3 separate regions of the Homo sapiens genome follow, and regions 1 and 3 are each linked to region 2. The links come from fine-mapping of genetic effects on gene expression. A gene starts in region 2. Each other region holds a variant in brackets. All regions are shown on one strand. Distances are between the middles of the regions. Region 1 overlaps DUSP14 (dual specificity phosphatase 14). Region 2 holds the start of SYNRG (synergin gamma). Region 3 overlaps SYNRG (synergin gamma).

Evidence for each region. PIP is the estimated chance that this variant, and not a neighbour inherited with it, causes the effect. A credible set is the group of variants that fine-mapping cannot tell apart.
Region 1: its variant is the best candidate, but not a certain one, in a credible set for the expression of SYNRG in kidney cortex (GTEx, PIP 0.87).
Region 3: its variant is the best candidate, but not a certain one, in a credible set for the expression of SYNRG in lymphoblastoid cells (GEUVADIS, PIP 0.78).

What each region holds. Positions count from the first base shown.
Region 1 is chr17:37,512,456-37,517,680 of GRCh38, forward strand. It overlaps DUSP14 (dual specificity phosphatase 14), which reads left to right. Exons shown (of 3, transcript NM_007026.4): 3 at 1-1,043. The coding sequence ends at 414. It overlaps SYNRG (synergin gamma), which reads right to left. Exons shown (of 22, transcript NM_007247.6): 22 at 2,352-5,225. Among named protein-coding and RNA genes, the nearest start is that of DUSP14, 25 kb to the left of the region's middle. RefSeq lists a silencer at 53-443 and an enhancer at 202-715. The variant C/CAA (reference allele first, on the strand shown) is at 2,953.
Region 2 is chr17:37,606,248-37,611,472 of GRCh38, forward strand. SYNRG (synergin gamma) reads right to left here and starts at 3,171. Exons shown (of 22, transcript NM_007247.6): 1 at 3,032-3,171. The coding sequence starts at 3,108. It overlaps DDX52 (DExD-box helicase 52), which reads right to left. Exons shown (of 15, transcript NM_007010.5): 15 at 3,492-5,225.
Region 3 is chr17:37,535,836-37,541,060 of GRCh38, forward strand. SYNRG (synergin gamma) reads right to left here. Exons shown (of 22, transcript NM_007247.6): 16 at 4,545-4,708; 17 at 3,357-3,410; 18 at 2,489-2,585; 19 at 144-292. Among named protein-coding and RNA genes, the nearest start is that of DUSP14, 49 kb to the left of the region's middle. The variant T/C (reference allele first, on the strand shown) is at 2,845.

The DNA.
Region 1 (5,225 bases), 94 kb before region 2:
GAGATCCCTAATTTCAACTGGCCCCAATTTGAGTATGTTAAAGTGCCTCTGGCTGACATGCCGCATGCCCCCATTGGACTGTACTTTGACACCGTGGCTGACAAGATCCACAGTGTGAGCAGGAAGCACGGGGCCACCTTGGTGCACTGTGCTGCAGGGGTGAGCCGCTCAGCCACGCTGTGTATCGCGTACCTGATGAAATTCCACAACGTGTGCCTGCTGGAGGCGTACAACTGGGTGAAAGCCCGGCGACCTGTCATCAGGCCCAACGTAGGCTTCTGGAGGCAACTGATAGACTACGAGCGCCAGCTCTTTGGGAAGTCGACAGTTAAAATGGTACAGACACCTTATGGCATAGTTCCCGACGTCTATGAGAAGGAGTCCCGACACCTGATGCCTTACTGGGGGATTTAGTGCCACTGAAGCCTGCGTCAGCAGCCCGAGCGGGGCCGGCATCTGCTCCCCGCCGTCTGCTCCCTCTCCACTCTCTTCTCAAATGGCTGACTTCTGGTTCTCCCTCAAGTGTTTTTTACACTGGGTGTTCAAATTTATTTTAAGAGATAGGGAGGGAGGGGACATAAAGGGAATGCATACATTGCTAGTCACATTTTTAAAATTAACATTTTGGAATAGTGTTTATGGAAATCTTTAGCTTTTAATCATTTTTACCAATTTGAACAGTTTAATAAACTGGTTCTGCTCTCTTCTGAATCTCATGCCTTTGGCACCTTGGTAGGTGCAGGAGGAGCTCAGTGCAAAAATCACTTTGGGGCCTCATTAACCCTTTAGAGACAAGCTTTGCCCCAGGCTGCGGACCAGACAGATGCTTAGGGAAGGTTGATAACCAGCTTCAGTCTCTACTGGATTAGCCCTACTCTTTCCTTTCCCCTCCATTATTTAGTGACTCTGTAAGTAAGTTAAATACACCCTTATTATTTAGCTGTTAAGTAACTATAATGAAATCTGCTGCAAAATCTCTCTTGGAATCCATGTGCCCAGGATTATATTAGCATTATTTTTAATAAATCTATATGCTTAACATATTAGAATTTTTACTAATAATTTCAAGGTGTGTGTGTGTCGATGATGGGAAAAAGGTGCTCTCCAGTAACTAACTAACTAACTGCTGAAATGTGGCTCCTGTGCCAGTTGGGAACATTACTTAAAATACACATCCCAGCAGAGTCTTGTCGGCGCGTCACATCCTGGTGGACAGGCAGACACACCGTCCCCGGTGCTGGGCCGGTGGGAGATGATTGATAGTGCACGCTCTGATCAGGGGTGCTGGTTTTGGTTTCCTCTTGGTTAGTGGAGCGCCCCGAAGCAGCGTGTCCTCCATCAGAGAAACTGGTTTTCAATAAAAGGTGCCTCTGCTTGACTATTATTACCACATACGAAAATGCCCTAAACCAAACCTCAGTATGAGCGATAAGCAAGTAACAAAAACAAACAATGGCTGCCTTTGTTTAACTTTGGGACTGTCTGTCACCCAGTTCACTGCTCCTGATAAAACGGGCAGCACCGCTCATCATCATCAGATACATGGTAGAAGGTGAATGAGCTCGCCCCTGTCCCACTCCTGGGACACTCCTGGGCACTTTCCACGTGCCCCCAAGTAACCACTGTCCTAGGGCATGCCTTTCTTCTGCATGGAGGGCATCCTGGGCGTCTGCCCGTGCAATGGGAACCCGCTGCGGCACTGCTCTTTGGCTTCATTTATCAGGAAGGTTGTAGCTTGCTCACCAGAGGAATAGTTTTCTAGATTTTTTGGGTCAGTTTTGGCAGGAAGCCATACATAGGCCAGTAGCTACATATTTAGACAAATATACTCCACATTTTACCTGGTTTGTGGCAATGGTTTTTTCCCATCTAAATTCTACCTTTTATTGCTTTATACCCGTGGCTGCCCACTGTTATAAACATGCATCATTATTCTCTAGAAAAACTAAAATGAAAAAAATTATTAATAGTTTCTATGGGAAATCAGAGGAAACAACAAATGCTATAAGATCAAAAAAAAAAAAAAAAAAAAAAAATCCAGGGAGGCTCTGGCTGCTTTAGTAGGAGGCTCAGCTTTGAGTCTGGGAGTTTCTGAATAAGAGCACCCAAATAACCATTGTCCTAGGGCGAGAAGACACCTGGTGACAGATGTTCTTGGTAATTAATGAAAATTACCTGTAGAATTCCTGGCAAGCAGCACTACGGGGCTGTAACTAAGAGTTCCTCGCACGTGGGAAGCTGAACACCTTTGTAATCTTAAGCGCATGGGCCCCTGTTCATCCTAGTGACTTGCATCTATGTGAAATCAACCCAACAAAGACAAGACCAAGAAAAGGCTTAGTAGCCTGACATTCTTCTACACTTGTATTTTGGTTAGAGAAGTTTAACAAGGGGTGATTTCAGAACAGACCCTGAAAATATTTTAAAGGTAAAGCTTTATAATGTCTAAACACATCAATTAGAGCAGTTGTTTATTAAAATACAAACAAGGGAGAAACCACACCATCTTTTAAAATACAGGCGCGAATTCCACATCACGCAGAAGACAACGCATTTCGCTAAGGGCCACAGCATTCACTGGTTAATAAAGCCACAGCTACAAAGTAATGAGATGTCCCACATGAATACTTTTTAACCACTTACATTCACGTCAACATATAAATAATGGAATTAAGTAAAAACTTCATTATAATGCTATTTTGTTAGAAAAGTATTTGTAAAGTGGCATTTTTCCCCCAAGAGCTGTTTCACTTAAGCTTTATTTCCTCGGCCTGGCAAGGGGAGGGCTTTTCAGTATTGTTATTTGGTACACACTTACCTGAAGAAATAAGTAAGTAACTTAAACATAAAAAACATAGTCGACACACATCTTGCCCTGCATTCTGACATTTGCTGGAATGGTCTACAGCAGGCTACAATGCTCCCTTCTGAATGGCAAATGTCTGAAAATGT[C/CAA]AGTTTATTAACTGTTCACAAAGGCAGGCATTTGACCTTGAAGGTGTTAAAGGGAATTTTTTATTTTTGAGACAGAGTTTCGCTCTTGTTGCCCAGGCTGGAGTGCAGTGGCGCGATCTCGGCTCACTGCAACCTCCGCCTCTCTGGTTCAAGCAATTCTCCTGCCTCAGCCTCCCGAGTAGCTCGGATTACAGGCACCTGCCACCATGCCCAGCTAATTTTTGTATTTTTAGTAGAGACAGGGTCTCGCCATGTTGGCCAGGCTGGTCTTGAACTCCTGACCTCGGGTGATCCACCCGGCTCGGCCTCCCAAAGTGCTGGGGATTACAGGCGTGAGCCACCACGCCCGGCTAAAGGGAATTTTTGTAGTGGTCCCCAGTACAGGGCCAGCATTTCCTATTTCTGTAACATACAGCCCTATAATCTTTGCAAAGCTGAAGTACACTTGAAATAGGCAAACAGAAGACACCTTTAAACAAATAAGACCCCCCCAAAACCCTTCAAATATGTATATGTACACAAAATATTCAAATAATTAAAAATTCACAACCCCTATGGAATGCTAACTAGTAGCCACAGGAAAAATAAAGCATGGAAAATATCCTCATATATCCAGTACCTCTTCTATCTCAAGCATGTCCAGACAAAAATTAAATTACACACTAAGCCATAAAAATTTTAAAGGCAAAACATCCCACCAAAAAAAGAAAAGTGCTTATTAATGGCCATTCAAGCAGTGGGGTGAAGCGGGCTGACACAATGCACAGTATGGAAATAAGTAACCTTGGCTACAGTTTCCAAGGACACGGGGCTCCTGGCTGACAAGAAGAGCTGAGGTGAAGCTGAATGCAGCGTTGAGCCATTTTAATAAACGTTTATAAAGAAAAGCAGCGCAACCGTGTCCCACACTCCTTGGATCCCTATTGGTGGCATCTAATTAAACATTTCAAGTATTCAAGAGATATGAAAGGTAGTGAATACTTTTCATAGCAAAGGCTTTTTTTCTGTTGACATCTGCTGAATTTTCCTGTGGCACCTCCCAAGGAGTGACTAAGCCTACCATCCTTGGTAAGGAAAATGGGGATTATACTAAGGAATTTTATCTGAGGCATTCTGGAATTTCTCAGGAATAGAAACCAGCCCAGCTACCAAGTGAGCTTTTTAAAATGTTGATACTGGGCCACTGTGACATGACAGGCATCTATATAGCATTTCAAAAAAATGCTTCAGCAATACAAATTCAAACTGGGAAACTTTTTTTTTTTTTTTTTTAAGAGACAGTGTCTCGCTCTGTCATCACCTACGCTGTCACGTGCAGCCTCAAACTCCTGGACTTGTGATCTCCCGCCTCAGCTTACCTAGTAGCTGGGACCACGAATGTCCACAGATGCACTCCACCTACCCGGCTAATTATTTTTTGTATAATTAGCTGGGGTCTTTACCATCATGCCCAGGGCTGGTCTCTAACTCCTGGGAAACATTCTTATTGCAAAGGTAGATTCTGCTGTCATGGTTCTGTTATGAAATTTAGGCCAGGCGCAGTGGCTCACGCCTGTAATCCCGGTACTTTGGGAGGCTGAGGCGGGCGGATCGCCTGAGGTCCGGAGTTCAAGCCTGGCCAACATGGAGAAACCTTGCCTCTACTAAAAATACAAAATTAGCTGGGCGTGGTGGTGCACGCCTGTAATCCCAGCTACTCACGAGGCTGAGGCAGGAGAATCGCTTGAACCCGGGAGGCGGAGGTTGCACTGAGCTGAGATTGTGCCATTGCACTCAAGCCTGGGCAACAAGAGTGAAACTCCATCTCAAAAAAAAACAAAGAATTTTTAAGGCCAATTAGCAGCCTGCTTGCATTCCAGCTCCATGTGGAAGTGGTGCTGTCCAGGATGGAAGCGCCGAGGCCTCAGGAAAAGCCTGCCAAAAGCTGTCCCACTTGTGTTGTTAGAAACACCCCACTAGCCTTGTGGTGGGCAAAAGCTCCAAAGGTGCCCATTCAGAGTGAGCTGCCTCAGTCAGGAATGGCCAGAGACGGTATCATCGGGAGCGAGTGAGAAAAGCCTTTCTCTCCTCGGTGCCTCTCTGTGCATTCGGGCACGCAGAAGGTCAAGCAGAAGCCTCAGCAACAGCTGTTTAATGAAAATGTTCCACACCTTTCTTGGAGAACATGGAAAAGCTGTAAGATGGAGCAAGACAGAATTTGTCCTGAGAGGGGAAAATAAATTATGTAAAAGCAGCAATTATATAGACAAGACCAACTTTTTCAGTTTAAAAAT
Region 2 (5,225 bases):
CTTGACCGCTTCCTCTTCCTCTAACTCTGTGGGCCAAATGAAATACCACTTCTTTGCCTTTGATATAGCTGAAATCCACAAATATTTACAGAATGTTTTTTATGTGCAAAAATGTGCTAGAAGCAGTGAAAGAAGAAAAGATGAGGAAGCCCTCTAAAAGCTTGTAAAAGATCAGGAAAAAATAGACAAGTTCACAGATGATAACATCCCAGAAGAACGTGACCTCTTTGTTCCACTTTACTTTGTACCACAGTTATTTTGTACATTCTCCAAGGATGGGGACCATGTTTTGATGTCTTTTTAATTCATTACAGCATCAAGAACAGTACCTTACCCATGTAAGCATTCAATGACTACAGACTAATCCAGATCTTTCAACTCTTTTTTTTTTCTGCCTTGATTAAAGAAAAAAAAAATTTATACTTCTCATCTCTTGGGCAAATTTTGCCCTTTATACAACTCTACCATTTATTCTAAAGTAGCTCATCCAGGACACCAATCAAAAGTAGGGTAATATTAAATTTGGAAAACGTTATTGTGTTTTGCTTAGCCTCTTAGAATATAGAGAAGTATCTAAACAATACAGTCAGTTATAGTTCATGGATTTTCTCCATTAAAGGTGTAGAGAAGTTGCCTGTTTTTTTTCTTCAAATATACTTAGGTTGCCATAATGTTAAGTTTCCTTATAAAATAATTTCAGGGAGGGTGGGTGGCAAAAAGAAAATTAAAAAGGAAATAAAATAACTTCAGCCTTTACACCATTACTCTCTAAAAAAAATAATATTCCTTTTTCTATTGAGGATACAGCTTCTCAGCCTCAGAAAGTTGCCAATATATGTAACATATGTACCATACATTTTTCAAGGTAAGAATCATTTTAACCACTTCTTTCTCTCCTGTATATCGTTTACAGTTTTAGAATGCAGATGTTGCTACATTTACAAAGGGGGGAAATTTTAAAATCATTCTAATTTCTATCAAAATTCAACCCATATTTATTTTAAAAATTTGTGTCCATGGACCAATGATACTCAAATACTGCAAACTAAAGGGAATAATGCACTTGAATTTCTGAACCTGAGGTCCTCCCCATCCAAAAACATTTTTTAAGTAAATAAAAATTTGGGCCTAGATATCAATTCTTCTAAGTTTACATTTTCCCAGAACTTGGTGCCATGATTAATCATATACTTGATCAAATTAATACCATCCAGGGACATTTTAGAAACTGTAATCACATATAGGAAATAAATAGAGGATGCCGGGCGTGGTGACTCAAGCCTGTAATTCTAGAACTTTGGGAGGCCAAGGTGGGCGGATCACTTGAGGCCAGGAGTTTGAGACCAGCCTGGCTAACATGGTGAAACCCCGTCTCTACTAAAAATACAGAAATTAGCTGGGCGTGGTGGCGCACGCCTGTAATCCCAGCTACTTGGGAGGCTGAGGCAGAAGAATCGCTTGAACCCGGGAGGTCGAGGTTGCAGTGAGCCGACATCGTGCCACTGCACTCTAGCCTGGGTGACAGAACGAGACTCTGTCTCAATCGATCAATCAACAAAATTAGCCGGGCATGGTGGCGCGCACCTGTAATCCCAGCTGCTCCGAGGCTGAGGCAAGAGAATCGCTTGGACCCAGGAGGCAGAGGTTGCAGCGGGTCGAGATCACGCCGCCGCACTCTGGCCTGGGCAACAGAGCAAGACTTCCTCTCAAAAAAAAAAAAAAAAAAAAAAAAACAAGACAAAAGAAAAAGAAAAAACAAATAGAAGGGAATTATTACATATGTTTCTTCTCCAGCCAGAAACTGGCTTACACGAAGTATTTATTTTTTAAAAAACCCTCTAATGAAACAACGGAGAGAACAAAAGAGAAAGCAAAAAGTTTAAAAATCTAAAGTTAAAGATGTGCAGAGGAAATGAAAAATGGGGTTACACACAGGTGGTTTATTGAACAGCCACTGCTCGTTTCCTGACAAGCACCTGCAAGAGGTGATAACTTTAAGGTCCTTACACTTTTGTAGTGTTCACGACTCCGAAATTGAAACACTGCATATAAAAAAAAAACCTAACACTTCGTTTTCCAAAGACAATTTAGGATACTGAAGATGCAAAGCTACTTTTACCTCCAAATGTGTGTGCTGTTGTGTGTTGGTTAGTAAAACAAAATCAGACTAGGTCATTATAGAAGTGGAGTGAAAACTTCCTAGAATAAAATATTTCCTTAAATGATAACGAATCTGTCAGCTTGTAAAACGTACATCTCCCTTACCATTCTGGGTATAAGAACCACGGCAGTTCTTGGCTGAAATGTGGCAGAGGGCAGATTTGTTTAAGGGCTGAGTCTGGAAGCTTTGTTCTAATAAATGCGCAACTGCTGTTTAACAGTGCACTTTCTTTGTTTTTAAATGCCTTTTTAAAAAGAAGACAGACAAGTCTTAAGAGTTAGTGTACAAGACAAGAACTCTATCTCAAGACCATTACTAATTCAGAGGTCTTTAGATGTTCCTGCTGTTTGTCGCGGGTTAAGGAAATAAAGAGGACAGGACACTCTAAAAGGGGAAGAGACAAATAGTCCACACACACACCCCCCTTGGAAACAGTCCTCCAGCTTTGTGAACAGATTTTTAAAGCCCTCCCTCCAACATATCCGGTTAAGTCTAGAAAGCCCAAGGAAAGGGAAGACCCTGGTCGCTTCAGAGGCAGCTAGGACTAGGAGCGGAGTCGCGGTTCCTGATTTGCCCCGCCCCCCCCCACCCCAAGAGGACCCTCATCTTCTCTCCCCTCCCACACTGGGCGCGCGCTCGCTCCCCGCTCGATTCCAGGCGGCCGGCGCCCCCAACTGATCCCGGAACACCAGCGTCCAGCACCTGGGCTCCACACGCCCCTTTCGGCCTGGGTCCCTGGGGGATGACCCTCCTCCCGCAGCCCAGTTCCAAGGAAAAGGATCAGGGCTGGAGAAAACTGCCATAACTGCCAAGCGCCCCTCGCCGCCCCCGCGGAGGCCAGCGGGCTCCCGCCCGGCTCTTCACACCTACCCGCCTCCCCCGGCGGACCCCGCGCCAGCTCCCGCGGCCCCGCCGCCACCAGAACCAGCTCCTGGCCGCAGCGCCATCTTGCTCCCGACCTGCCGCTGCCTTCGCCGCCGCCACCTTATCAGCAGCTGTCAGCTGAACACAGCCACTTCCGGGTCAAACACCAGGCCCCACCTCGCCGCGGACCGGGCGATGGGGCGGGGCCTCGCGCCCACGTGACTCCCCCGGCCCTCGGGGAGGCGTGGCGCGCCCACGGCACGTGACCCGGCGCCGCAGGGGTCCCCCAGATTCAATTCTAGCTCTCGGGCTGGTGGGGCGGTCGCGGGCGCCTCTCCAAGGGAGCTGATTCATTGTCTGGTAGGCCCTCTGCAGGGCCCAGCTGGCGGCCCAGTGGCAAAGCGCCGTTGGTCCTCCGTTTGAAAACCATGATCGCGGTTAGTGGAAAGAGTAGGCTGAGTCCTGATTTTTAAACTATACGGTGGGTACACTGGTGTTCTTTTATTGTTACTCTTTACACACAAAGAACAGATAGGTCCTGAAGGGCCCTTTGATAGTCTCGCAGCACTGATGAGTGATCAGCTCTCCCCTCTTTCTCTGGAACTCGGTAGCTTCATGTTGGCACCTATCACAGACGCTGAAGGCATTTAAATTTTATTTTAAATCAACCAAGAGCCCAAAAACCCAACCCATATTTCGAAAAAACTCCAAGGTGTACTACTCTTGTTTGGTTCTGCCATCCTGCCACCTTACAGTCCTTTTGTTTTTCCTATTCTTGCAGGCAAGTGCAAAACAGTGGTTTTTGGAAGGCAATTCATAATTACTCTGAAGCTATTTCGGCATATTTTTTACTGATTTTTTTTTTTTTTGAGACAGGGTCTTGCTCTGTTGTCCAGGCTGGAGTGCAGTGGCATGATCATGGCTCACAGCAGCCTCAGCCTCCCTGGCTCAAGCGATCCTCTCGCCTCAGCCTCCTGAGTAGCTGGGACCACAGGCATGCACCACCACACCGGGCCAATTTTTTTTTTTTTTTTTTTTTTTTTTTTTGTAGAGATAGGATCTATGTTGCCCAGGCTAGTTTCAAACTGCTAGGCTCAAGCTATGCTCCCACCTCGGCCTCCAAGTGCCAGGGTGTGAGCCACATGCCTGGGCTGTGATTTTTTTTTTTCTTTTAATCAAACTACTGTCTGGAAGTAAAACATGAAAGTTGAGTAATTTTCTCAAGCACGTAGTTTGCTTGCTAACAAGTAATGGATTAATTAGCTTTACGTTTTCACTCTTGTCTCAAGGTTTTTACTGGGTAATAATTTGTAATAAGTTATTAGGCACAAACCACTGGTCAGGAACTGTACACGCATTTTAAAAAATCCTCAGTATCCTTAGGAGTTACAATTGGCATCTTACAGATGAGAAAATCAAGGTTAGAAACAGTTACTGTCATTTGTCCAGATCATACAGCTACAAGCAATGAGGATCAGGATTCAAATCCAGGCCAGTTTGACTCTAAAGTCCTTGCTCATTTCACCAGAGCCAGCTATTCAATTTTTATGTTTTTTCTTTTGCTGTAACTGCCTGTTCACTAATTTCACTCCTTCCCTTCCTTGTGTGAAGCTGAAATTTATGTAGCACATAGTTCCAACTGCTTTGAAGGAGCTAAATTTAGTATTAATACACTGACTAAGTTGATACAGGTTACTGTAGATACTTTAAACAGACACAATAAAGTCAAGGATCATAGATGTGACCTCAGTTTGTCCTGGAATCCTTTTTGTTCCTCTTCTTTGCCTATTGGTTTTTACATTTGCAGGATTCAACTCAGGATGTCGGCCTTCCATGACATCCCCAATCTGGGTTAGATGCCCTCTTGTGATGCTTTAGCATCATGGCCTTACATCTAACAGAGCACTTGCCACACTAGTCATGTGCTACATGATGATGTTTTGGTCAGCCACAGACAGCAGATACAATGGTGGGATGAGAAGTGGGGGTGGAAGACAGTGAGACTGATGATCCTGACCTTTTGTATGCCTAGCATAATGTGTGTGTTTGTGCCATGGTTTTTAACAAAAAAGTTTTAGAAGTAAATAGTAAAACAAAACAAACAAACAAAAATTAATAGAAAAAAAGCTTCTAGAATAAGGATATAAAGAAATAAAGTATTTTTCTACAGCTGTACATTTGCATTTTAGGCTAAGTGTTA
Region 3 (5,225 bases), 70 kb before region 2:
CCTGTGATCTCCCTCCTTTAATATAACATGCTCCAGTTGGCACCTCCAGCCTCTAATAAGTACCATCATAGGAATATACACTCTGCTTTACAACTTAGGTTTCTGGAAAGGAAAGCAACTGCTGAGTTGTCTCATGGGCTTACTGTGAGTGTGGCGAGTGACATGAAGCCGATTAGGTTATTCCATACTTTATCGATGTCCTTCAGCAACTGCTGGAGTTTCTCACTGCACACTGCAGTGGCTTTTATCCCCAGCTCCACACGCTTGGTTACCCTGTACACTTCAACAACACCTGACGGGATGAGAGAGCAGAGAGAGAGTGTTGGCAGTGGAGACACAGAGGACCCAGACAGGGGAGCATTATTGCTTGCTGATATCTGTGAGAAACAATGGGTGTATCTGGACAGAGGTGTACTTACTATTCTTTGGGACCAATCCACTTCTCAATGCTGCTGTATAGCTTACTGGTAAGAGCATAGAAGCTGCACTGCTTGGGTTCAAACCCCAGCTATGCCTCTTACTGGCTACATGACCTTAGGCAAGTCACATAATCTCTCTGTACCTCAGTTTCCTCATCTGTGAAGTTGGGATGGTAACAGTAGCTCCTCCAAGGATGGTTGAGAGGATTAAATAGGGTAATATGGTAAAAGGCTTACAACAGTGCTTGGAGAATGGCAGGCACTATGCAAGTTATTAGCTTTTGTTTTTTGGGAGGTTTATTTATGAGTCCATCTGTTTGAATCTGGGAAATCCCAATAAACTAGCTGAAAATGGGGATAGTAAAAATTTAAAAGAATCTAAATGTTAATAGCATCACAAAGTAATGAAGAAACATCTCACCCCTCTGAATCTGAAGGTCTTACAAACACTTTGACTTCACTTATCTTTAAACACATAACAGGATGCAGAACAGTTCTTTTCCTATGGTCTCTAAATTGTGGTTGAACTCTTGAAGCAAGGATGAGAGGTGCTAAGTACCTCCACATTCTAAGGACAGCCACCAGACACATCCCTAACCCCTGCAATGTAACAGTCACCAAAGACATGACCCCGATCTCTCTAAGTGAACACTGGAGGAATTCCAGGGGATCTTCAGAGCGGGGCCTCAGCAGCCCTGTGTCAGCACTACGGCTTTTCTTCTTCCTTTCCCAAGAGAGGGGCAGAAATTACTGCCCACCCTAAGCCAAGTGAGGGGGCTTCTAAGAGAATCTTCCATAGATACAAGGATACTAGGAGAAAAGACAGGTGCCCCATTTCCTGGTGGACATCTGCTTATGCAGAACTGTGCCTGTTTGAGCAGGAAAAGAAGACCCCAAGTGAGGTGGCAGGAGTAAGGCAGAGACTACATCCCTTCACTCTCCACTCATCCAGCAAATATTTTTGAGTGCCAACTACGTGCAAGACACTAGATTAGGTGTTGGGGACACACCAGTGAACAAAACAGACCAAAATCCTTGCCTTCTTGGAGGTTCATTCTAGTGAAGGGAGACAGAGAGTAAAAACAACAAGTAGCTAGGTGCAGTGGCTCACGCCTGTGATCCCAGCACTTCGGGAGGCCAAGGTGGGTGGGTCGCTTGAGCTCAGGAGTTCGAGACCAGCCTGGGCAACATGGCGGAAACCTGTCTCTACAAAAACTACAAAAATTAGCTGGGTGCATGGTGGTGCACACCTGTGGTTCCAGCTACTTGGGAGGCTGAGGTGGGATGATTGCTTGCGCCTGGGAGGTGGACGCTGCAGTGAGTCATGACTACATCACTACACTCCAACCTGGGTGACAGAGTGTGAACCTGTCTTAAAAAAGAAAAGAAAAGAAAAGAATAATAAGTAACATATGTAAGAAATTAAAGGTAATAGGGCTAAGGAGAAAATCCAGCAGAGAATGGGATGGGAAGTACCGGGGTAGGGAGAGACGATACTCTTTGGAGAGATGGATGCTAGGAAAGATTTCACTCAGAAGCTGACATTTGAGTAAAGATTTGAAAAAGATTAGGGTCCAGCATGTGTGGCTCTGGCCACGGGCCAAGCCTGAGCTTGGGGAAGGGAGGAACACCGAAGTGGACAGAGACTACACTTTCCCGTTGGACTGACACATCAAATTGCTGCAGATGGCCAGGAGGTTAAGGACTCTGTGGTGTCATTAAGCGGTCGAGAGAAAGAATATAGAGTATGGTAAGGAATTGATGGGAGACAAGATGATTTTACTTTAGTGCATCGGTAGTTCAGATTCTTTGATAAACCAGTAACACAGATATAATTTTACATTTTTGCTATTACGTATATAACAAGGATGAGGAAACTTAGCCATAGAGACTTTTTAATTAAGTCCAATAGTTTACTGCCTGTAGCTTGAGTGTCTTACCCACAAATACAGATGCTTCTTACTGAAGTCATATGTAACTTGAGAGATCTAGCTTAAAATAATTAAAGGGAAAACTGAAAATAATGCAAAGGGCCATCATTTTCAATAGTAAAATATGAAAGAACATACCTAATAAATATTCCATGCCTTGAGCTGACTGAATTACTTCTGTGCAAACAGAACTACTACTGATTCCATTTAAGGTATCATTTGCCTTCTTAATGACCTACAAGAAATGAAATCACATCACCTTACATAACTGAGAAAAGTCATTGCAAATCAATTTACTATTAGTAGAAAACCCAACCGAAAAGCCAGGAGGTGTCAAAAAATCTCATTTTATCCTTGAAGAAACAATCCTCCATTTCTCTGGAAGAGAAAATATGTTTTTTTCCTTTTGTTTTGTTTTGCTTTGTTTTGAGACGGAGTCTCGCTCTGTAGCACAGGTTGGAGTGCAGTGGCAAGATCTCGGCTCACTGAACCCC[T/C]GACTCCCGGGTTCAAGTGATTCTCCTGCCTCAGTTTCCTGAGTAGCTGAGATTACAGGCACGTGCCACCACGCCTGGCTAATTTTTGCATTTTTAGTAGAGACAGGGTTTCACCATGTTGGTCAGGCTGGTCTCAAACTCCTGACCTCGTGATCCGCCCGCCTTGGCCTCCCAAAGTGCTGGGATTATAGGTGTTGAGCCACCGCACCCAGCCAAGACAGGTTCTTTAGCTTAAATATTATTTTGATTTAGTCAGAGTTAATGAAATCACTTTGTTATTTCTTAAACACAATGACAGATGAGGGGATGACTGACACATGAGCCGGTCTGCTATTGTAAGTGTGAAAGAAGCCTCACCTTAGATGCATGACTTCCACAGAGTTACTCTTTGCCCAGGGACATCCAAGTAAGGCTCTCCTGAAGTTTGCCTCTGTCAATTCAAATGAACCAAGAAGGCAAAAAGGCACAAAAGAGCACTCACATATGTGTGAACGCGTAAGTGACATACTCACATTCAGGGCACTCCCCAGGCATCTCTGCCATTCATATGCATATCTCTCATTTTCCTGTGAATTTGTTAAAAAGAACTGGGTTAAACACACAAACCTGGAATCTTCTATTGATGACTCTGTCAATTCAAAGTGCTTGGAGGACTTTCCTTTTTATTACGATCACTCTAGTTCAAGCAGTTTATGTTTTTTTTGTTTTTGTTTTTGTTTTGAGATAGGGTCTTGCTCTGTTGCCCAGGCTGAAGTGCAGTGGCATGATTTCTGCTCACTGCACTGGACGCAAGCAATCCTCCCACCTCAGCCTCCAGAGCAGCTGGGACTACAGGCACGCACCACCACATGAGGCTAATTTTTGTATTTTTGGTAGAGGTGGGGTTTCACCATGTTGCTCAGGCTTGTCTTGAACTCCTGAGCTCGAGTGATCTGCCCGACTTGGCCTTCCAAAGTGCTGAGATTACAGGCATGAGCCACCATGCCCAGCCGCAGTTTATCTTTTTGAACTCACTAATAACTATGTTAAATTACTAATAAATGTAACTTCTGAGCACAGGACCTGTGAGTCTAAGGGACATGCTTTCCAGCAGCTTCCCCCTGTGAGTGTTGCCTCATTTGTTCCATCAGTAACAGTGTAAGCCTTTCTTCGGAGGCACTCAGCATGTAGCTATCTGGTACAGAAACTGCTATTAAGCCACTGGCTTTCCACGCCCCAGTTATAACGCTGTGTGGCTGTGTGTGAGGACGTGGCCCATGTGCACATGTAACAAGGAGTAGGGAAAGGTGGGAAATTAAGTGTGTTGACCATAGGAGGAACATAGCGTGGCACTAAGATGCAGCAGACAGAAATAAAAAATTCAGAATATTTTCCCTGTCTCCTCTATTTTGAGGTTTCATGAAGACAATAAAGTCTAAGTGCTCAAGAAGAATTATACAAACACTGCCATCCTTGTGAAGTCCCATGAATAGTTTTGGTTTTAGGGTCACTGATTAGTTTCAGTGGGTGCCACACCTGGGAAATGTTTTCACCCAGGGCTAATGTTACCCTTGCCTCACTTTAATTACATAGTTTATGTCTGGTGCTTTGTGTCTTTCTGCCCCTCATTTTCCCCATGTGAAAGCTGACAGCATTCTTTCTTGGGGCCCTGTGTGCTTGCTGGTCTGTTACCCACCCCTTGTAGAAAGCTCTCCTCTCACCTCCACCTCTCCCGTCAGGTCTTTGTACTTGTCTCGGATGACGGGCAGGGCGGGCTTCTCATTCAGAGTATTGGAACGGTCTCTGAAAGGCTGCTCCAAAGCTGGAGAAGGAGAAGAACGGCTTATTTCTTTATCACCAAGGCTCAAACTCCTCTTGTGTGATCCTGGGAGAAGGGGATAATACAGTCAAAGGTTTTGGCTACTCACCTTAGTTCAGGCAGAGGCTCTTCCTCGCTACCACAACCCTCTTCTTTTTTTTTTTTTTTTTTTTTTGAGACAGATTCTTGCTCTGTCGCTCAGACTGGAGTACGGTGGTGTGATCTCGGCTCAGTGCAACCTCCGCCTCCTGGGTTCAAGCAATTCTCCTGCCTCAGCCTCCTGAGTAGCTGGGACTACAGGTGCACACCATCATGCCTGGCTAATTTTTGTATTTTTAGTAGATACACGGTTTCATTGTGTTGGCCAGGCTGGTCTCGAACTCCTGATCTCAAGTTATCTGCCTGCCTCCCCTCCCAAAGCGTTGAGATTACAGGTGTGAGCCACCGCGCCCAGCCCACGACCCTCTTCTTCAGATGCTTATGTCATGAGGCATTCACAAACACATTCCTCATTCATTCTTTCTGGGAAGCTACATGTTAAATCTTTTCTACTGTTCTCTCTTGCACGGTTTCCCTGCGTTTC